5 separate regions of the Homo sapiens genome follow, and regions 2, 3, 4 and 5 are each linked to region 1. Evidence: fine-mapped expression QTL. A gene starts in region 1. Each other region holds a variant in brackets. All regions are shown on one strand. Distances are between the middles of the regions.

Region 1 (4,115 bases):
TGCTTGTCATCTGCCTATTCCTGCTGCCCAGCCCCCTTCCCCAGGAGCTCTGCCCATGGCCACCTCCTGCCAATGTGGAGCTTGGAAGCGATTTCTCCACTCAGTCCAGAGAGCAAGGGTTGCAAATAAACTAATTCCTGTGTGGTCAGTGAGGCTAAAGGCCCAGCCCTTCACTGCTCCAAGGAGAAGATGGGTGTCAGACAAGGTGCTGGCCCCCAGGTGGCCCAGGAGCAGATAAAGAGCTTGCAAGATTGAGTACTCAGGATGAGGTCCTGAGAGCTGGGACCACCGTGCCTCAGCTCCTCCGTGAATGCCACGCGCAGTGTTCTACCCCTGAACCTTGGTTTCTCGGCCTGCAAGTGGGCCTGTCCGGTGCAGCCTGGACCGTTCCAGCACAGCTGCAGCAGGATGGCAACCTGTAGCTTAACCGCCCCACACTATGCTGCCCGTGGAGCTCAGGGCCACATTTCACAGATGAAAGGACACATTTGCTTTTTCTAAAGCCAGCATGAGCCTGCAGGTGGCACACAGAGGGAGATCCAGGGTGCTGCAGAGAAAGCAGTCAGTGGGTTGGGGTGGGAGGCAAAAGGCAGCCCAGCCCACACCTCCCTCTCCCTCCTGCCTAACCTCCGCCTGCCGGCAGGGCCACTGCCATCACCTCCACCCCTGCCTGTCCCTATGAACACAAGCTGCAATGTGGGCATCCCAGGGCCTCTGGGTAGGTGATGTGGGTGCCCCAGGGCTCTTGCTGGAATGTTCTGCCAATGGTCTCTCCCATCCCTTCCAACAGAGGTGCAGACACTGTGTCCAGCCTGGGCCCCAAGGCTCACTTTGCTCTTTAGTATAGGGGGGTCCTCTCTGCCCCCTTCTCACCACCTCGTCCCCATCCCACTCTCAGACCCCTCTCTCGGGAGAAGGGGCCATGTCTAGTGAGAAGTACCCCCAACCCTCAGGGCTGGGCAGCAACCACATGGAGAGGCAGAGGTGGGTGGTGAAGGACAGAGTCAGCCTGGCCCTGCCTTTCCCCACTTAAAATGCTCAGGGGCTCCGCTGTCCCCGGGGTCAGGTCCAGCCTCGCCTCCTTGCCCTGCTTGGCTCTCTGGCCTCCGCTCCTGCACCCTCTCTGAGCTGTAGACACATGGAACCTCTTTCAGTTCCAGAGTTTCAGCTCCTCTCTCAGCTCTGGGCACACTGTTTCCTCTGCCTCCTCAGTCCTTACCTCCTCTCCTAGCTCCCACCCGCTGGTCCTTCGGGTATTAGCTGAGTGTTACTTCCTCCGGGAAGCCTTCCCTGACCACCGGTCACCAGCCTGGGTGAGGGTGCTGCTTCTGTAGCTTGCATGCTGCACCCCCACCTTCTGTCTCACATACCTGTCCTGCTTGTTCCACGCCTGCCCAACAGATGCAGGCTCCTTGGGGCTGGGGCTGGGTTGTGCTCAGCTCTGTGTTTCTACCCCTATCCTTGGGACACAGTAGATCATAATAAATGGTCGCTGAATACAGGAGTGAAAAGGATGAGAAAAGACCAGACAGAAGAGAGGCGAGGGGCTCCCGGGGTTCCCGCCCATGAATAGATCTAAAAGAAGCCAACAGTGTCCCCCATCACTCTGGGGCCCAGGGAGCTACTGGCTGCCTGGTTTCTCCCAGTCACCCTGGGTGCCCCAGGCTCCATACCCGGCCCCCACCCTGTGCTCAAGGAAATCAACCTGCAGGAGAGGGAGAGAGAGAGAAGGAGGGGGTCCTGGGTCTCCCTGAGCTCAGGGATGTGGTCCTCACTTCTGCCTCCCCAGGCAGAGGGCTCTGTGCCCTGCCCGGGGAACTGGCATGTTGGCAAGCACAAGGAGACACAGGCATGGAAGAACAGGGGACCCTGATTTTCCAGAAATCACAATGGCCAGTCAGTCCCAGGCAGATGACTACCTGTGAAAAGGCTCGTCGCCCCAGCCCCTGCTAGAACTTTTCCCACCCATCCTCCCAGCCCTGTCCTATCCCCGGCCACCTCCAGAGCATGGGCTGGTCCAGCTCTCAGAGCTGGCGTCCCTCTGAGACAGCGGCTTCCCTACCTCGGAAAGTCACTTTGGCGATCCGGTCGCCCCTGCCCCGCAGCTCCGAGACTGTCTTGAGGTGGATGAGCAAGGCCATGCTGGTGTGGGCTGCCTGGCACTGCCAGGCAGGAGCAGCGGGAAGGAGCTAGCCGGTGGAGCACGGCTCACACGCCTCTCTCTTCTCTGCCGCTGCCTCCTCCTCCTCCTCCCGACCCCCCTCCGATGCTGCCCACAGAGACCAAGGCAACCAAGCCGAGCTAAGCTGCTCCTGCAGCGACTCACAGAGCCTCACAGCCCCCGCCCCTCCAAGTTGTCAGCCCAGCGTGTGTGTATCGGTGTGTGCGTGTGTGTGTGTGTGTGTGTGCACCCAATGTGCAGCCTGGGAGTGCGGCAGAGTTGGAATTCATTATTCAGCAGCCGCCGGCTCCCAGATAAAGCTCTGTCCAGCTTCAGGTGTCTTCTCCCAGCTCCTGGAAGGGAGGCTCTGCCCACCCCTCTGCAGGGCTCTGCTGCTTCCCTGCTAAGCAAGCCCTGCCACCAGTAGTGGGCACAGAGGAGTGGGCATGAGCATAGGTAGGGTGGATGTGGGGCGGGGGGCACTCCCACCCACAGGGGCACACTACAAGAAGAAGGGAATGTATTTGTCCACCTACGCCCACCTCTTCCCTGCTGGAGACTGTGCCCCCAAGAGGCTGGGCCCTGAGCCCTGCCCTGGGATCCCTGTTTCTGAATCTCAGGAAGCAGAGAGGCTGGGGCTGCTGCCTGAGGGGAGGCTCAGGACCAGGCCATGCATGATGGAGATGGCTGGTTGTGGAGGCAGCAGAGGCTTATGTGCTACCAGGGGCCATGTTTAAGGATCCAGGGCACTAACCTAGCCCCACCCCAAGGCTGGGGGTCAGGCAGGCTAGCGAAGGTAAGCCAGGCTGATGTTTGCTTTCCAGCCAGAGGAGCAGAATTGAATGGCCTTCTGCTGTTATAAGCTGCTAGGGGCAGGAGAAGGGATGTCTATAGGGAAATTTCTAAGGACCAAAAGAGAACTGCCCCCTCCTGTCTTCCAGCAGCATACACCAAGGAAAGGGACGCTGGGGGCCAGAATCCCTGATGCTGGAATCTGTGCAGGGTCATCTGCAGCCTTGTTCTTGCTATTCATTCTTGGTGGAATGCCCTCCACCCCACCCTGGACTCAGCTTGAGTGCCTGCTCCTGGAGGTGCCTCTGTACCCGCACCCCAGCTGGGTTGGGGTCCTCCTCTGTGCTGCTCCTGCCTCCTCTCATCTTACTGAGTCCTGGGGCTGCTTCCCTTGCCTTTTCCCCTCCTGACCTCAGGAGGGCCCTGGAGCACAGCATCCCTCTACCCCAGAGCCCCACATGGTATCCTGTGCACCGTAGGATGCCCAATTACTGTTGAAAGGATAAAAGAGTGAGCTCAGGGATCTACCTGAAACAGAGTCTAAAGGTTAAAAAGAGAAATACTAATTTTTCACAGCATGGTAACAAGAGGTTACTTCTTTTGAATTCTGCATTCCAAATAACCTACAGTATGTCCCAAGAGCCTTCTTTCCTCCTTCTAGATATTTCCTTGCTACTGTGCCCTATTTTTCTTTTTCTACTTACGTTTTTTTCCTTTGCACTTTTTCCTAACCAATTCTTGCTTACCTTTCTCACATTTATCTAATCATATTGAATTTAAAAATGTCTTAGAGTATTCTGTTTATTGAATACAAGTATGAATGCTAAATTTTCAAAAGCTAGATAAGTTTAATGTCTTAAAAAAAAAAACACCTAAATTCACTAGCATTTTCCATCCATGAGGTCATCAGGTGATCTGTGTTTTTAAGGCTTGGTGACTACAAGGTACAACAACAACAACAGAAAATATCTTCTTCCTTGGTTCTCTGGAGGTCCTCCCCTGAAAGGAGTGAATTTCATGAGGCCTCTTATAGACCCTGTGCATCTTTAGGAAAAAGCCCATGATCCTGCCCTAGCCAAGGCATTGATCTATGCTGAATCTCACTTTCCACATCCATAAAATGGTAGCAATTCCACTCAGCAGCTCTCAATGGAGTCAGCTG
Region 2 (4,102 bases), 72 kb before region 1:
TGTCATCGGGGTCAGACAGGATGGCCCACTTGTGATGGAACTGGTGCTCTGCAATGATGAGGGGTGGGCACTGCACCAGACACCCCCACCCAGAGCGTCTCCCAGTGCTCAGGGCAGGCCAAGGGGTGGCAGAACCAAATGCTGTCTTGGTCCCTAGAGTCCCGGGACCTGGGGCCACAGCTCTGCCTGTCCCTAGCCCAGGGTGTGATAGAGTCTGAGGTCCTCTGGAGCTGGGGCAGTGGGTGCATGGCCTGCCCATGGACATATATCCCATGAGTGGTGTGACTTGGAAGCACGACAGCCTCCTCCTAATTGGGTTTTTCTGCCTGTGGCCTCTTCTATGGCCCCACCCCAGTCAGCCAGCCTTCACATAGCTGTGAAGGACACAGCTGCACACAGGGCCTTCCCAGGTGGAGGCTCATGCTCCTGCTCCCCATCTTCAGCCCCTCTGGGGCTTCCCAGTGCCTTGGGGTGAAGACAAAAGGCATGGCCTGCAGGCTCCTGATTTAGTGCTCCCTGACTCACTCTGCTGAGCCCACCCAGCCCTGTGTTCCTCCTTGCTGAACAGGTGTTGCGGTTTTATATGCCCTTTTATACCTCCATGCCTTTGCATCTGCTGCTCTTTGAGCTTGGAATGCCCTCATTCCTGTTCTCTCCACCTCCACCTGTCTTTCTCCCTATTCAATTTGTAAACTTCTACTCATTTTGCTCAAGTCTCTCCTCCTCCATGCAGCCCTCCCTGACTTCCTCGGAAGAGTTGATCCTGGGCTCTTTAGTGTTTGTTCTCTGTGCTCTCCATGCACACCTCCCATCTCACTGTGCTGATCTGGGTATTGTTTGGCTCTGATTTTAGACTGAGAGTCTCCTAAAGACAGGGATTGTCAGTCTCATCCCAGTGTCCCATGACCTATGACTGTGTGGAGGAAAGGACGGATGTCAGGGAAGGAGGCGCTTTAGGAAGGATTTGCCCCTTCAGGTTTACTTTAAGCCCAGTGGGCAAGCAAAGGGAAGCGCATCACTGTGCCTTAGGAATCTGCTTCCCGGGATGTTAGGTGGGCACTGAACTCTCAGGGACTCAGCACCTCCCTCCTTCACTCCCTCCTCTTCCACCTTCTACCGTAGCCCAGGCCTGTGTCCTGCAAGCCTGTGGCCCTGGTGGGCTCCCGGAGATGTTAGGGGCTGTGTACAGAGGTTGGCCTTTCTGGGAATAGCCAGGCCACCTGTGTCTCAGAAAAGATAATGCCACAGTAGAGTCTGAAGAGAGGGACAAGCAAGGTGAGAGGGCAGGAAGGCACGTGGATGAGGAGTCACTGGAGAACCTCAGCCAGGCTGGCAGGCCTCCAGGGAGGGGCCATGTCCCAGGAATCCCAGGAGCTTCAGGTCTTGCCAGAGCAGATGTGTGTCGGATGAGGAGATGGACAGAAAGCTCAATGAATGGGTGCATAAATGGGCAGAGGGATGGGTGGTGAGCTGCCTGGCCGGCTGAGAGATAGACGGACAGAT[G/A]GTGAATGGATTACTGGATAGAAGGAGCCATTAATCTGTGGACAGGTGGGTGGGTAGATATATGGATGGGTGGGTGGATGGGTGGATATATGGGTGGGTGGATCTGTGGATGGGTGGGTAGGTGGATGGATCTGTGGATAGATGGGTGGGTAGATATATGGATGGGTGGGTGGGTGGATGGATGGATATATGGGTGAGTGGGTGGATCTGTAGACAGGCGGGTGGGTGGGTGGATGGATTCACGGATGGGTGGGTGGGTGGACCAATGGATATATGGATTGGTGCGTGAATGGATGGATACATGGATGGGTGGGTGGATCTGTGGACAGGTGGGTGGATGGATTTGTAGATGGGTGGGTGAGTGGATGGATGGATACAGGGGTAGATGTATAGAGGTGTGCATGGTTAGATGAATTGGGGACATTTAGCAAAGAAAGAGAATACGGTTCAGGAGGAATGTAAAATTTACCTTCAAATTTAAAGGCTATTTTTCTTTTTGTCCTGAAAGAGAGACGTGTGAAAGTGGGTGAAGGTTACAGGGTGACAGATTTTGAGATGACCTAAAGAAAGTGAAGATATCTAAAATAAGAAGTAGTGAGTGCCCCATTTCTGGGAGGACTAAGCAAGGTTAGAGGACCAATCAGAGATGGTGCTGTGGGGGTCCCTACATCAGGTTAACACTTGACTCATGACTTCTGAGGCCCTTCTAGTCCTAATACTGTGTGATCTCAGGCTAGAGATACAAGGACCACATGAGATCCTGAGCTATATGCTTACCAGCCTGAAACATCATTTCACCTCCCTTCAGCCTGGGGCTGACACCTGCCAGTCAAGGGTAGCCCAGCTGGGGAAGTTGCTGCATCCCAGACCTCCTTTATGATCTATGAGGATGAGTGTATGCCCCTGACTTCCTCTATGATCTATGAGGATGAGTGTATGGCCCGTCCTCACCCCCAACAGAGAGTAGCAAACAGTAAACAGTTTCCTGATGTTGCATCTGGTGGTACAAATGACAAAATGTGGTCCTGCCAGGGTGAGAAGAGGTTCTCTCGGGAAACCCCTTCCAGTTCCAAGAGATATCGACACCACCCAAAGCTTCCCAGCAGCACCCAGGAGTGTCTCTGGGAGCATGCTGTCCAACAATGCCCTGGCTGGAACCAACGACTCATCAAGAAGTTCAGGCCAAACTGGAGATATCAGAGTAAAGACATTGGGTCTCAACTCCAGGACCCATGTGACTTCAGGCTCTCCTGTCCCTGGGAGGGCACCAGGCTCAGGGCTGGATTCAGCAGAAGCAGCAAATCTCGAGCTAGGTTACCCAAGTGGAGACCTCGGCCCACATCCTGTTTCTGCCGCTTACTCACAATGTGGCCCTGGACCAGCTGTTTAAGCCTGCTGAGCCTCAGTTTCCTTATGGTGAAATGGGAATGATGCCTATATGGGGTCGTGAGGGTGAGGCCTGCTGGGACAGTGAGCTTAGCCCAACATCTGGCACTTACTGATGCCCTGGTGGTTTCCTCACCAGGACTTTACTACCCAGAAGCCCAGAGGTCCATATTAGACTAATATCTGCCTTTTTCTCCACCCCCTGACTTTCTCTTGGCTCTCGGCCTCAGGCCTGCCAGTGGTACCAGGGCCACTGCTCAGCCCTGGGAGGAGCTTATCCTCAGGGATGCCAGTCATTCCAAGCAAGTAGTCCACGGCTATGCATGCTTCCTGGAAAGCAACATGGCAGGAGGCCGACTCTTCCCTGCTCCCCATGGCACTGATGGTCAGCAGGGCTGCCCTCCGCTGAGGGCTATGGCATGTGTGGGGTGGTGGCAAAGGCACTGGCCTGGGAGCTGGAGACAGGGGTGCTACTCCTAGATGGTGGACAAACCCCTTCATCACCTTGGGCTTCAGTTTATCTTCACAGAGGCTGGACTAGATGTTTTTCAGGTCTTGGGCAGCTTGAGTGTTCTATGATCTTGTGATTTTTATGTGTATAATCTTGGTTTTGGACTCAGATTCCCTGGTCTAAGTCATAGTTGTAATGTGCACCAGCTGGACGTCTCTTAGGTTGAACCACAAGCGATCGCCAATTTGTTCAACCTACTAGTTTAGTGGTATCTCTAAGCCCCTTCATTTCTCTTAGCCTCATTTATCTCATGTGCAAAATGGGAAGAAATGCTGCTGCCTACATTACTGTTTTGTGAGGGCCCAATGTGACAATTGGGTGAAATTATGTTCTCACTGTCAAAGCGCCTAATGGGGTCATTACAGCACTCTGAGCAGTGCATTCACTTCAGGGACACAGGGTGGTCCCTAACCTGCCCACGTGGTGAGCTGTCATCTGGCAGGCTGAGGCACTTCCTCTGCCTGGCCCACCTCACAAGCCCTCTGGGCCACCCCTTGGGGTTCCCTTGCCAACACCATTGCTGTTACCCTACAGGACGCCACGGAGCACACATGGCTGCCCAAAAGCCTGGGGCTCTTGTAAGAAGTGTTTTCAGAGACCAGAGTCCCTCAGAGGCCGCCGCACTACATCTGGCATTGACCAGCATCACCGCTTTCAGATTGGATAGTGTGGCTCAGTGAGGCTCTGGGGACACACAGCCTG
Region 3 (4,115 bases), 83 kb before region 1:
TCCCGTAGGCCCCAGAACAGCACCTGGGAGAGGTTGGAGGGTGGGTGCAGAGAAGAGAGCCCCTTAGTCAAGGGAGCCAGCCATGGGGGTGCTGGACCATCCAATAGGGAACCGGGCAGTGGGATGGGCAGTAGTTCACCCCAGATTTCAAAGGGTGGGAGCAGGGCCAGGAGAGCAGAGGAGGGGCAGGCGTTCTCCAGGGATGAGGGTGGGGCTGCCCGGAGAAGGGGTGCAGGGTCAGGGGTGCAGACAGGAGGGCTGGGCATGGTCCTGGGACATGGGAGTGCGACTTGGTGCAGATGGGGGCAGGCCCTGGGCTGGGGCAGGAGCCTGGGTCTGCTGCTGGCTCCTGGTGATGGTGGTGGGAGGGGGATGACAAGCCACTTCCCCTCCTGGGTCCTCAGACTCCTCATCCAAAAGGGAAGGGCCACACAGAGCCCTCGCACCTCCACTCGGTACTTGCTGAGCACGGGCCGGATGCCCATGGGCACGGGCATGATGGGACCTCGGTCCACGTCCACCGGGCCATTGATGGGGGGCAGGTCAGCCTTCCCTGCTGGTCCAATCTGGGGAATGGGGGTCACAGGTCACACACTGGGGAGCCCAGGGACAGGGTCTCTTTCCCCATGAGTTGTTTGCCATGATCTGGGGAGACAGGGAAACCCCCTAAGGACCACGCCCCCAGCTTTGGTCAGGATGGGTAGGAGAGAGGCCCCTAGGCCCCAGCCCCCAGGCCCCAGCTCCAGGCCCCAACCCCCAGGACCTAACGCCCAGGCCCTAACCCCCCAGGCCCCAGGCCCCAGCCCTCAGCCCCAGCCCCCAGCCCCAGGCCCCAGCCTCCAGCCCCCAGGCCCCACCCCCAGGCCCCAGACCCCAGGCCCCAGCCTTCAGGGTCCAGCCCCCAGCCCTAGGCCCCAACTCCCAGCCTCCAGTCCCCAGGCCTCAGCCCCTCTTCCCTGCAGTCCCACCTGCAGCAGCTCGAAGGCCGCCAGCAGGTCTCCAGCTGTGGCGTTGCCACGGTAGATCTGGTAGTACTCGAGCTGAGGTGGGAAGCGGGGTGGGCAGTACGCCTCGTCTGCCATCTTCACCAGGGGTTTGGCGAAGGTCCGGCCCATGAAGTCAGCTTTGCCCTGACGCAACAGACAACCCAGAAGCCTCTTGGTGCTTGCTGTCCACACCTGTGATCTCGTTTGGTCCTTACCACAGCGCCATGAGTTGTTGTAAGGGACAGGTGTGATCACCCCATTTTACAGATGAGGAAACCAAGTCTCAGGGCCCACCAAAGACTTGTTCAAGGCCAAGCAGTCAGTAAATGGCAGATGCCCGGCTCAGGACTAGACATGAGGTCCTCCTACCTCTAGTCCAGGGCTATCTGGGCACCTCAGCAGCTGAGGTGGTATGTGAGAAGGTGGCTCGCTAACTCTCGGGGGTCACCCCAATCCCTTACTCCCTGCTCCAGAACCTCCACGGAGGATGGCAAGGCTGTTACTGGTTGTGGTAGGTGAGGGCAGGGGTCGGGGAGCCCTGGGGTGGGGAGGCTAGTGACAGCAGGACTTGCTGGCACACCTCCAGGGCTCAGTCTGTAGGAGACAGGAGGTGAGGATGT[G/C]CTGGCCTGGGAAGGGGTCAGGCTGCCGCAAGCAGGCAGGAGGAGCTAGATGTCAGCCCCCACTCCCAGCTTCCCAGCCAGCACCTGGCCAAGGAGCTCTGCAGGTGGGTGGCGGAGGTGAGGGCACAGCCTCAGCGCAGGTGGAGTGCAGGGAACAAGGGCCAGGTGTGGTGCTGCTGGGGTCCCTGGCACCAGAGCCCACCCATACCATGGAATCCTGGTCATAGATTTCAATGACAATGATGGGCGGATCGTCCCTCAGCTCATGAGCTTCACCATAGAGCTCCAGGTTGTCGAACACCAGCATCTGGTCCCAGGTGGGACACAGGGTCTCATTCAGCACCTGCAGCATGGGATGGGGAGACAGGGGACAAGTGACAGAGGGGGGGGCAGATGCACAAACAGAAGCCACCCCTACTCACTCAGCTTCCACGGAACCTGGGGGCAGGAGTGACAGGTGTCTTGATTCTTCCAGAAATCTTAAAATCAAGGCTAATATGAGGTTTGGCCCAAGCCCCCTGCCAATGTCCTCCTTGTCGTCCCTGTCTTGTGAATATAACCACAGCTAAAGCCCGTAGCCTTTCCAGTGTGACCCGCGTCTGCTGCAGTTATCTGCAGGGCTTCCCCTGAGAAACCGGGGCACTGGCTGACCTGTGGCTCCAGGCCCCACAGGCTCACAGGCCCCACAGGCTCCAGTCCCCACAGGCTCACAGGCTTCTGGTGCTCTCAAAGCCAGAGCCACTCCCTCCTCCCAGGCCCTCACCTCTGTGCACTGACTCTGATTGATGAAGAAGACGCGGGCAAAGGGGTCTGAGAGTCCGCTGCTGTCGGCGGCAAAGAGGCTGCGGGCCTGGTACATGTGCGCTCGGAGCTGGAACGCCTGCTTCTCTGTGGGGAAGGGCAGCCTGAGGTTCCAGGATGGGCAGCCCCTCCGGCCCCCTCCCAGGTGAGGCTTCGAGTGAGGGGTCCTCACTCACTGGTGTAGACCAGGCTGACGGGTGGGAAGGCATGCAGGCCCAGGCCCTGGGCTGCCTTGACCTCCTGGAAGCCACAGGGCAGGCCGCACAGGAACTCCTTGCGCTGTTTGCTGAGGCCCAGCCACAGGTACAGCTCCACCTTGGCCTGCACTGTCCAGCCTGCCGAGCCGAAGCCCCGCTTCCCTGGCAGCTGGGGGTGGGCATGGGGTCACCAGGAGCCTGACGGCTGCCAGGGCCCAAGAGGTGGGGAAGGGGCAGGGGCCGGCAGAGGCCCTGGTCAGAGCTGCCCTGCCCCTTCACAGCCATCCCGCTGGGCTGGGGTCCGGTGGAGGCAGGAGGATGGGCAGGGGGCCGTCATGCCCCCTTCCCCACCCCTTCCCCCACCTCCTTCCCCACCCCTTCCCCCACCTCCTTCCCCACCCCTTCCCCCACCTCCTTCCCCACCCCTTCCCCCACCCCTTCCCTCACCCCTTCCCCCACCTCCTTCCCCACCCCTTCCCCCACCCCTTCCCCCACCTCCTTCCCCACCCCTTCCCCCACCCCTTCCCCCACCCCTTCCCCCACCTCCTTCCCCACCCCTTCCCCCACCCCTTCCCCCACCTCCTTCCCCACCCCTTCCCCCACGTCCTTCCCATTCTTGGCTCTTCTCTGAGCACCTGCTGCTTGAAGGCCCCACCCTGTCACTCAGGCTTCCAGCCCCAGGTGGGGGCTGCTGCTCCCCTGAAAGGACCCAGGCCCCCATCCATCCTGCCCCCTCCAGCACCTTAAGGAAGAGCGTCTTGACCTTGGCGCAGTCCTTGCCAGTCTCCTCCTCCACGATGGAGAAGAGCAGGTCCTTGGAGGGCACACGGGCATAGGCGACACGCTTGTTGTTGCTCATCATCCAGATGAAGATGTCGGGAATGCTGTGCTGGGGCTGGGGGTTGGGGGGTGGCCAGGGGCAGTGGGTAAGGGGGTCTAGCCTCCTGATTGAGCCCCCTGATCCTGAGGGGCCCCAGAGAGCCAGCCCTGGATGAGGCAAAGCCCCGACCCCTTGGGCCGCACCTCGTCCGCCAGGAAGCGCAGCTTCTGCAGGAAGTTCTGGCACAGCCTCAGCTTGTCCCGCACCGTGTGCCGCTTCACCTGGGCCCGCAGCATCCTGGCCTGCTGCCCCATGTTTTCCTGCGAAGGAGGGGGTGTCAGTGAACCCAGCAACTGGGGGACAGCTCGGGCCATGACAAAGGGGGTTGTGACACCTTCTCACAACCAGGCCCTCCCTCCAGCCCCCGCCGTCCAGTTGCGTCCTCACCAGCTCCCTCATGCAGGACTTGAGGCGCTCCCGGTCAAGCCTGGTGCGGGATGAGTGGCCCTGGTCCTTGTCAGCGAGGGAGAGGAAGCGGCTGGGGGTAGGGCGAGCCGGGGTTTAGCGAGCCTGACCAGCAGGGGCTCTGTAGATTCTTCCTCATCTGCCCAGCCCTGGCAGGGTCCCCTTTGTCCAGTTCCGCCTCATCCTCCCCCCACCTGCCGCCCCTCCCTTCTCACCAGCAGCCACA
Region 4 (4,115 bases), 97 kb before region 1:
TTATCCAGGCGTGGTGGCGGGTGCCTGTAGTCCCAGCTACTCAGGAGGCTGAGGCAGGAGAATGGCGTGAACCCGGGAGGCGGAGCTGGCAGTGAGCCAAGATTGTGCCACTGCACTCTAGCCTGGGCGACAGAGCGAGACTCTGTCTCCAAAAAAAAAAAAAAAAAAAAAAAATTGGGTTACAGTCTGGGAGAAACATGGCTGGGAGCAGAGGTGGTGTGCAAAGAACACAGGATTGGAAATTTGGAAACCTTGGCTTGAGTCCCGGCTCTACCCTAATTTGCTGGGTAACCTTGAGCAAGCTACTTCACCTCTTTGGCTTAATGTGGAAAAGTGTAAAATAGTCATTTCTAGTTCTGAGAGTCTATTCTGTCATGAAAGCTTGAAAGTTGCTGTGCATGTTTGTGTGGGCTTAAGTGTGTGCCTGTGTGTGCTTGAGTGCATGTGTATGCACTTGTGCGTGGCACATGTGTGCATACATGCTTGTGTGTGTTTGTGTGCACATGTATGCATATTTGTGTTTGTGGATGTGTGCGTGTATATGTGTGTGTGTGCACGCGCCTGCCTAGCCCTTGGTCCAGAGGAAGAAGTAAGAAATATCAGACCCAGGAGGCCACTGGGCTCAGGCCCCGAGGATTTTCTTGACCAGGTAGCCAGGCACAGAGTAGAGGAACAGGGCGAGGAGGAGGAGCAGCAGCAGGAGCAGCAACAGTTTGAGGAGCAGCCAGCGATACGTGTGCCACAAGAAGTAGCGAGCCGACTTGAGAGGGTTCAGGAACCAGATGAAGCTCGTGTCGGGCCGGCTGGAGTATGAAGGGTAGAGAGCGCAGAGGAGGGACAGGGAGGAGAAGGGATTGGGTGTGGCGAGGGGCCAAGACCAAGAGGGAAGCTGTCCTGGGCTGTGTGTGCAGTTCTAGGCACCCCTCTGGCCATCAAGGCTGGCCATGGCCCCAGAGGCCACCACTGGAGCTGGCTCTTCTGCAAAAGCTAGGAAGGGAAGAGCATAGTTTCTCTCCGCTAGATGGGGCCTTTCCCAGGGAAGGTCCTGCTCTCCAGTATTCCTAGCCCATCCTCTGGTTCAAAGGGACGTTGTGGGATTCAGGGTTGGCAGAGGGCAGGGAGGAGGCTCCCCTGTAATGAGGCTGTGGCCCAGGAAGAGATGGGGTGTCTGGGGATCGTCTCCTTCCTGTTCCAGCGCCTCCAAGAGCCAGAGTGGGGAGGGGCTGGGCCGGCAGGGCACTCACTTGGGTTTCTCTAGGGGGTCAGGTTCATTGCGGGCCAGGCCCACTGGGTTCTTCTCTGCCTCCTCTGCTGTCAGTAAATGCAGCTCAGCCTCCACCTTGCCCTGCAGAGGACAGACAGGTCCCAGCGTCCAGGCTGCGTGCTGGGCCCTTGGCACCCCAGCCAGTCCCAGCCCTGCCTACTGCCCGAGCAGGAAGGGGTGCGCACCGTGAGCTCAAACTCATCGTTCTCATTGCGGGCCAGGAGGGGCCACCAGCCTTTGACGCGCTTTTGCTTGAAGATGGACACGAGGGGCACGTCCACCTCCCCGGTGGCCATCTCCATGGTGCACTGCTTGGCTGTCTTTGCGCCCCGCGGGAACCGGTTCAGGTCCAGCTCGATGGCCCCTGTGGCAACCTCAGTGTCAGCTCAGAGTGAACAGGGCTGGGGTGGGGCGGGGTGGGGGTGGGGGTCTGGGCTCCTCGGCCCCTTGTTTGCTGAGTGCAGACCTCCCTGAGCCCACATCTCATCCTCCTGCCTCACTCCCAGCAACTGGCCTCAATGCAGGCATCCTCGTGGGCTTGCTAGGCAGCCCCAGCCCCCA[T/A]GCTTTACTCAGGTCCTTCTTTCACCCCAGAGGGTCTCTCCTGGGGTCTCCCCTGCCACTCCCTGCCATGCATCCATTCTGTCAAAGTCCTGCTAATCCCACAAGCTTTTGCAGATGCAGATTAGAGTTTTAGGGAGAATCCCTGCTTTACAGAGAAGCAACCTGAGGCCCAGGGAGGTTTCCCGACTCCCTTAGGGAGCCTCTCCCCTCCCCCATCATCACTGACTGCCCCCTCCTTGGTGTGTCCAAAGCTTGTTGTCAGCCTGGTTATGACACTGAGAACATCTGCCTAGGGACGGTTAGGTGGGTCCTTGGGGGCGGAACCCCGTCGGACACCCCTGGCTCTGATGGACTGGAAGCAATGACCCCTTGTCCCCCCAAGGCAGGGCTCTCCCTGTCCCCGCCAACCCGGCCCCTGCCTCTTCTCAGTTCTGGATCCTGAACCCCCATCCCTGCCCTGCTCTGCACCCAGGAAGTCGTCAGCGGAGAAGTGGTCCGCATCCCAGATCTGCAGGGTGAGCCGCGCGGGGATCTTGTACTCGGTCTCGTCCCAGGAGAACATGGACTCCTTCTTGGAGATGACGATCTTCTCCTCCGCCGCCAGGTAGTCGAAGGGGAACAGGTAGCGCCAGTTGAAGTTGCCCTCGCCAGTGAGGGAGTGGTAGTGGACGTCTGTGTCCTGCTTGTCCTCCTGCTGGCCCTTCAGCCACCTGTGGGCGCCACATCTCCAGACCCGCAGCCAGGCTGGTGGGGCCTCTCCCACCCACAGCCACCTTCCCTCTGCCTCCTCTCCTGCCCCCCGGGAAGCAAGCCCCACCCAGCTCAGTCCCTCCCATGCAGGGACTGCTCACCCACCCCCTCACGAAGATGTCACTGGACTTCTCCCCTGTGAAGAAGTCGTCGTCCTCCAAGACCACCTCATCTGTGTTCCAGATGATGACCCGCAGCTCGTACCTGGGCCCAGGGAGAGAAGGCTGGTTAGCAGCCCCAGGTGGGGGTTATGCCAGGGTGCCAGGGCTGGGATGGGGCAGGCGGAGAGAAGCCCTGGGGTCTTGGGGTCAGCACAGGGCCTGGGCCAGGCTGGGGCTGGAGGAGTGGTTTGGGGTTGGGGGAGCAGAGGCATGAGTGAGAAGGCCCACCAGGCACATGGCTGTGGGCGGTGGGGGTGGGGTGAGGGGAGGAAGCCACCCTCTGTCTCAGATGCTAGTTCCAAGAGAAGTCTGCATTTAAGCCCAGTAGCCAGCAATGGAAGCCCATGGAAGCTGTATGTCCCTGTCCCCAAAGAGGATTTTCCCCTCAAGGTTTAATTGTAATTATGAATGATGTAGTTCATTTCAATCATTAAGAGTGAGGCTGAGTCATTCACTAAAAATTGATCTGAGCATGGCTCTCCTGGGATTGCAGACAGGGCTGCGAGCCCAGAGTGGCCCAGTGAGTTGGGTGCCCCCTAATGACAGGCCCTGGAACAGCTGACTCATGGCCTCAGGTTTCCAGGACATTCCTGGCAGAATTTGCTGCATGATTTGCTGGGGCCAGCGCCAAATGGAAATGCAGGGTCACTTGTCATAAAGAATTTCAAGATGGCAACATAGGAGCATGGAAACAAGAGTGGGACCCTGTGTGGCTTCCTCCATCCCTGAAGCTGGCCCTGAATCCAGTCACTGTCTGACAGCTGGACTTGAACCTGCCGCTTTATGGATGGGAAACCCGGGTTCTTTTCACTCTACCACCTCCTGCCTCTTCCAGGCACTCACTCCTGGATTCATCACTGGCAGGCACTCCAAAGAAAACTTGGCGGAACATCACACTAGCCTGGATGTGAGGATGACGCAGGGCCGGCTCCCAGGGGTTCTGTGTGTTGTGAAGGAGTGCGTCAGTGTGGGCATGTGTGTGGGTGTCCGTGGGAGTGCTATGCTGTGTGTGTGTGTGTGCATGAGATGCATGTGTATGGGCGCGTAGACCGTGTAGATACAATGCACCGGAGTGTGCTGTGTGGGGCTTGTCTCGCTCACTGATGCAGGGTGGAAGGCGTTGTCCTGCCTTAGCACGTGGGGACTCTCCAGGGCAGGCCCTAAACTCTATCGATTGGTTGGTCAGTTTCTCCCCTATAAGGCCCAGTGGCCACACCCAGGCCCCAGGGATGCCAACTGGCCAAGGCCATCTGGACCTGAGCCCCCCGCAGGAAGGGTTGGGCCGTGGTGGGAAGTGGGTGGGGTGGGCCGGAAGGGAGTAGCGCTGGGCCCCAGGCCGCTCACTTCTTGGGCTTCCGAGGTGAGATGTCCAGAGGCGT
Region 5 (4,115 bases), 49 kb before region 1:
AGCACCAGTTCCCAGAAAGCAGTATGCCTACTTCTCTTGGCAAACTGTAAAGGAGAGTTTTGAAATAAATGTCAACTTAATCAGGGAATTTTGAAGATTATCTATTTGTCTGAAAGACTTAGATTTCAAAAAATGTAATTTGCTGTTGAGGTGTCCGTTGTCCTGGCCTTTTTTTGTTTTCAAAGTAAAATTCTGCATTTGGTCTAGTTGAGTTCTACAATTACCAAAAACAGGATATGGTGAGAAACAGACAAAGAAAACAAGCCAATAATCAACTCAGTGAAAACTCACTTTACAATCAAATGGCTCCTTATTCTTGGGCGTATTAAAGCTTGAGAAGTGAGAGCCAAGGGGAGGCCAGTATCCCAGGACCCTCTGAGGATTTAGAATCCGTTTGAGTTTCCTGTGGCTACATTCACCATGGTCAGAATGAAATGCACCTACAATCTAGACTGGTATTTATCTCTAGAGGAAAAAAATGCTAAAATTAGTTCACTTATTGTAAACTATAAATCTGATGATTTCTCCGCTCATTTTATGGCCCAGATTTAGAAGCGTGTTGCTGTGTGGTGCACACAGGGTCCTAGGTAGAGCTTAGTATTCATAATGACTTGGGAACATTCACCAAACTAAATTTAGTGACCCGAGTGTTTCATTAATTCAGGTCTCTGGATTATTCTGAAAGCTAATAGAGACCTGACCATAAATGAGCTGCAGGTCGAGTCCATTCACTGCCCAGGGCTTCTGCCCCATGACTGGCTTCAACTGGAACTACTAGGCTCATTAGCTCAGGCCTCAGGTAATCAATCAGGATAAAGACTCCTGTCTATGAGAAATAGGGTCTGTGGTCCTTCTTTGCATTGCTCAAACAGCCCAATTTTCAAAACCTCGGAGCATGTTATCCAAGCGCCCCTAAATGGGTTTATTTTAAAAATTTTCCATGCCCCAAGGCACAGGGAATTTCATAATTTTGGTCTTTACAGGTGTCTTTGAAAGTGTGTTGAATGTCAGTTAGTTTTTGAATAGCTTTCCATAGGTGGGCAGGATAGGCTGACCCTTTATACAAGAACCACCCTGTCTCCAAACTGGCCCGTTTGCACATGTGCCCACGTTGTACCAGAAGGCTTGGGGGACCCACACACACTTGTCCTGACCCCAGGATTGTCAGGGAAGCTGGCTCTTCAGTTCTTGCTGGCGGCCCAGCCCTTTGCAAGGCTCAAGCAAGCAGCATCATGGAAGATGATGGGTGTTTTCTCATCTCCCCAAACCAGCCTATCCCAGAATGTCACACACTATGAGTTCTTTCGTGGGTTGAATCTTGTTTCTCTACTTCAACTTAACTTCAACTTAAATTTATTTCCATTTATCTCTTCTCAGTGGAGATAGATACCAACCAGCTTTGCCACACATTAACATTTCAGAGATTGAAATCTGTCTCCACAGTTTTCTCTCCTCCAGGCTAAAGAGTTTAAATTTGTTCAATCTCTTCTTAGAAATCTCATTTTCCTATTCTTTCAATAGTCCTATTGCTCTACACATAATAATAATAACAATACTATATGCCAGTTTACTTTATCTCATGTGCTAATTAGAGATGGTAAGAAATTAGGACAGAGAAGTGCTAGGAAACCAGTATTTTGGTGGACCTACTATGTGCTGGCACTGTGAGGTACCTCTTACTCCAACTGTAGCCAGTCAAAGGGATCAGGCCAGTCTGTGTCCCTGTGGGTCTGGCCTGGGACAGACTGGGAAGCTGGGCATCAAGAAGGGCCTTAGAGCATCGCTGATCTCAGGCAGAGAAGCTGGGGATGGACAGGCTGCTTGTATCTCATTCATATGCCCTTTACATCTAAGCATCTATGGAGAAACCTGAACCCTTGAGGACTCCCTAAGAGGACTCCCCAGCTCAGCATTCCCCATCATCGCCACCCACCCTGGATTCAGTTCCCTGGCTCTGAGCCTTGACACATGCTCTGCCTACGTGTCTTCCCTTACTGGGAACCTGGCAAACTCCTCCATCCTTCAGGTCTCTGGGCTGGAGCTCTTCCTACACAGCGCCATTTCCTCCATCACTACAGAGTTAACACTGCATCATCATTGCTTTTGCTTGTGCGTAACAAATG[C/T]GAGTTAGAACTCATACCTTTTTTTGAAGCAATGAATGAGGCTGTGAGTTCCCCAGGATCTTAATGCCAGTGGATATCCCAAGCCCACACCAGTGTTGATCAGTTCAGACCCCTCAACACACAATCCTGATATTTCCATGATATCTTCAGATGAACTAATTCTTAATATATTGAGGCCACAGTTTTGAGCAAATCTCTTAAGATCTCTGGGGCTCAGGTTGCTTATCTGGAAGATAAAAAAGACCACACTCCTGGCTTTTCAGCTCTCATTGGTATGTTTGGAGAATTAGATTAAATTTAGATACAGTCAAGTTCTCTAAATTTCCTGGGTCTATGGTGAGCTCTGGGTCAGAAGTCAGCTTCCCTGTCTTCTGGTTCCAGCTCTGCCCCTGTTCTGAGACAGATTTGTCATCTGTAAGAGCAGGTGTTAACCAGAGGCCTCCTCCAGTATGGTCCACCTTGGCTACCACTGCCCTTATGAGATCCCGTAATGCTAGAGTCCTCCAGATGTCAGTGTGCTTCTAGGGGTGCCTACAAGACCCATTCACAACTCCCAGCCTTCGAATCTTTCCAGACCCTTGTGACCAGCCCCTCCCACCTGCAGGACCCTTCTCCTGTCCTCTCCAGACAGCACCCTGACCTCATTTTTCCAGGAAGCCTTTTGGGGAGATGAAGATAGAGAGGGCCGCCCAAATGGTGGCCTCTCCTAAGCTTTCTGGGGGTCTCCAACTCCACCCACGACCTGCAGCTGCAAAGGGTACCCAGAGTTCCTCCTCCTTATGCCTCCAGCTGCCTGGCCCTACCTCGCCCCTGTTGGGAGAGGGATCCCTGAGGTCCTCATGCCCCTCTCCCCTTAGCCTTTAGCTGTCCCCTCCCTCCCAGGGAAGCCCGAAGGCCACAGGATGGGGGCTGAACAGTGGAGGAGGAACAAGACACGGAGAGGAGGATGGTCACCCCCGAGAGCCCAGAGTGGAAACCAGAAGGTCTGGCCACCTCCCCCGCGACCCTAACCCCTCCTCATCCCTCACCCCCGTGGCCAGGTGAAAAGGCCTCCCTGGGCCTCCATGACCCGTGCCAGCTCTACCACGACAGCCCACTCCTGAGCCCTCTCAGCCGAGCCCATCCCGCCCTCCACAGCCTGTGGGGAGGAGGCCTCTGTCTCCCCAGAGACGCTGTTGCGTCTGCCCTCGCCTGGGACACCTACTTGTGCTCGTCATCTCTGCCTCCCTTGGTCTTCTCTCTGCCTTTGCTGAGTAGGGGGAAGAAATGAGGAGACAAGGGGACACGTGTGAGGGGCTGTGGACCAGAGACACTGGCCTCAGCCCCGGCCCCACGGGCCTGCACGCTCCCCGGGGGCCTCCTTGTCCCACAGACCTCTCACCCCACAGCTTCGCACGGTAGCAAGCCTAGGTCTGCAGAAAAGGGGTCCCATGGCCCTGGGTTCTGCCTTGGGGGAGATGGGAGGGGCCCACAGTGCTGGGCCTGGGTGGCCACTATTCCAACCCCAAGCTCTGATACCTCAGGGCCTCAGCTCATCGCCCCTACCAGGCTAAGATCTGATGATTCCACAATGTGGGTCGCAGCTTCCTCAGGGAACACAGGGTTAGATGAGCCTGGCCACCCTCCCGGCCTGGGCCACCCTGCTCCTCTGCCCACCGGCTCCCCTGCTCCCCTGCTCCCCTCCAATGGGGTGGGAGCTCCCAGGCTCTGGGGGCCTCTAGGGGAACAGTGGGCTAAGCCTGCTCTGTGAGGGTGAGGCAGGGCTGGGGGTCCTGCTATGGAGTGCACACGGGTGGTTGGGGGCAGTTCTAGGGGTGTAGGTGGGGCGGTAAGTGAGCTACCACTCCAGGGCTCAGAGCAGGGAAAAACGGCCCCCCTATCTCACTTTAGGGAGGCTTCCAGAAAACTTTTCTGGAATGTTCTCTCAATGCTTTCCCAGTGCTGTGGCAATGAGGATGAAGACAGGAAAGTGAATAACAATTAGCAAATTAT

Which allele goes with the higher level. Positions count from the first base shown, and alleles are read on the strand shown. Sizes are in standard deviations (SD) of each study's normalised expression. Not every link is listed here.
As copies of G replace C in region 3, the expression in transverse colon of the gene that starts at base 2,326 in region 1 goes up (small effect, 0.28 SD a copy in GTEx).

What was found. PIP is the estimated chance that this variant, and not a neighbour inherited with it, causes the effect. A credible set is the group of variants that fine-mapping cannot tell apart.
Region 2: its variant is the best candidate, but not a certain one, in a credible set for the expression of OTOF in whole blood (TOPMed, PIP 0.61).
Region 3: its variant is the best candidate, but not a certain one, in a credible set for the expression of OTOF in transverse colon (GTEx, PIP 0.50).
Region 4: its variant is the best candidate, but not a certain one, in a credible set for the expression of OTOF in whole blood (TOPMed, PIP 0.82).
Region 5: its variant is the best candidate, but not a certain one, in a credible set for the expression of OTOF in whole blood (INTERVAL, PIP 0.64).

What each region holds. Positions count from the first base shown.
Region 1 is chr2:26,556,431-26,560,545 of GRCh38, forward strand. OTOF (otoferlin) reads right to left here and starts at 2,326. Exons shown (of 47, transcript NM_194248.3): 1 at 2,063-2,326. The coding sequence starts at 2,141. RefSeq lists enhancers at 1,687-2,480, 2,481-3,273.
Region 2 is chr2:26,484,586-26,488,687 of GRCh38, forward strand. OTOF (otoferlin) reads right to left here. Exons shown (of 47, transcript NM_194248.3): 12 at 1-48. Among named protein-coding and RNA genes, the nearest start is that of OTOF, 72 kb to the right of the region's middle. The variant G/A (reference allele first, on the strand shown) is at 1,504.
Region 3 is chr2:26,473,545-26,477,659 of GRCh38, forward strand. It overlaps OTOF (otoferlin), which reads right to left. Exons shown (of 47, transcript NM_194248.3): 19 at 4,105-4,115; 20 at 3,872-3,962; 21 at 3,628-3,744; 22 at 3,347-3,499; 23 at 2,584-2,773; 24 at 2,370-2,494; 25 at 1,815-1,949; 26 at 969-1,130; 27 at 447-566; 28 at 1-23. Among named protein-coding and RNA genes, the nearest start is that of DRC1, 74 kb to the left of the region's middle. RefSeq lists an enhancer at 4,015-4,115. The variant G/C (reference allele first, on the strand shown) is at 1,607.
Region 4 is chr2:26,459,403-26,463,517 of GRCh38, forward strand. OTOF (otoferlin) reads right to left here. Exons shown (of 47, transcript NM_194248.3): 41 at 4,081-4,115; 42 at 2,681-2,779; 43 at 2,294-2,535; 44 at 1,450-1,628; 45 at 1,245-1,345; 46 at 606-803. The coding sequence ends at 623. Among named protein-coding and RNA genes, the nearest start is that of DRC1, 60 kb to the left of the region's middle. RefSeq lists enhancers at 1,059-1,764, 3,450-4,115. The variant T/A (reference allele first, on the strand shown) is at 1,826.
Region 5 is chr2:26,507,378-26,511,492 of GRCh38, forward strand. All of the region lies in intron 5 of OTOF (otoferlin), which reads right to left. Among named protein-coding and RNA genes, the nearest start is that of OTOF, 49 kb to the right of the region's middle. RefSeq lists an enhancer at 3,972-4,115. The variant C/T (reference allele first, on the strand shown) is at 2,124.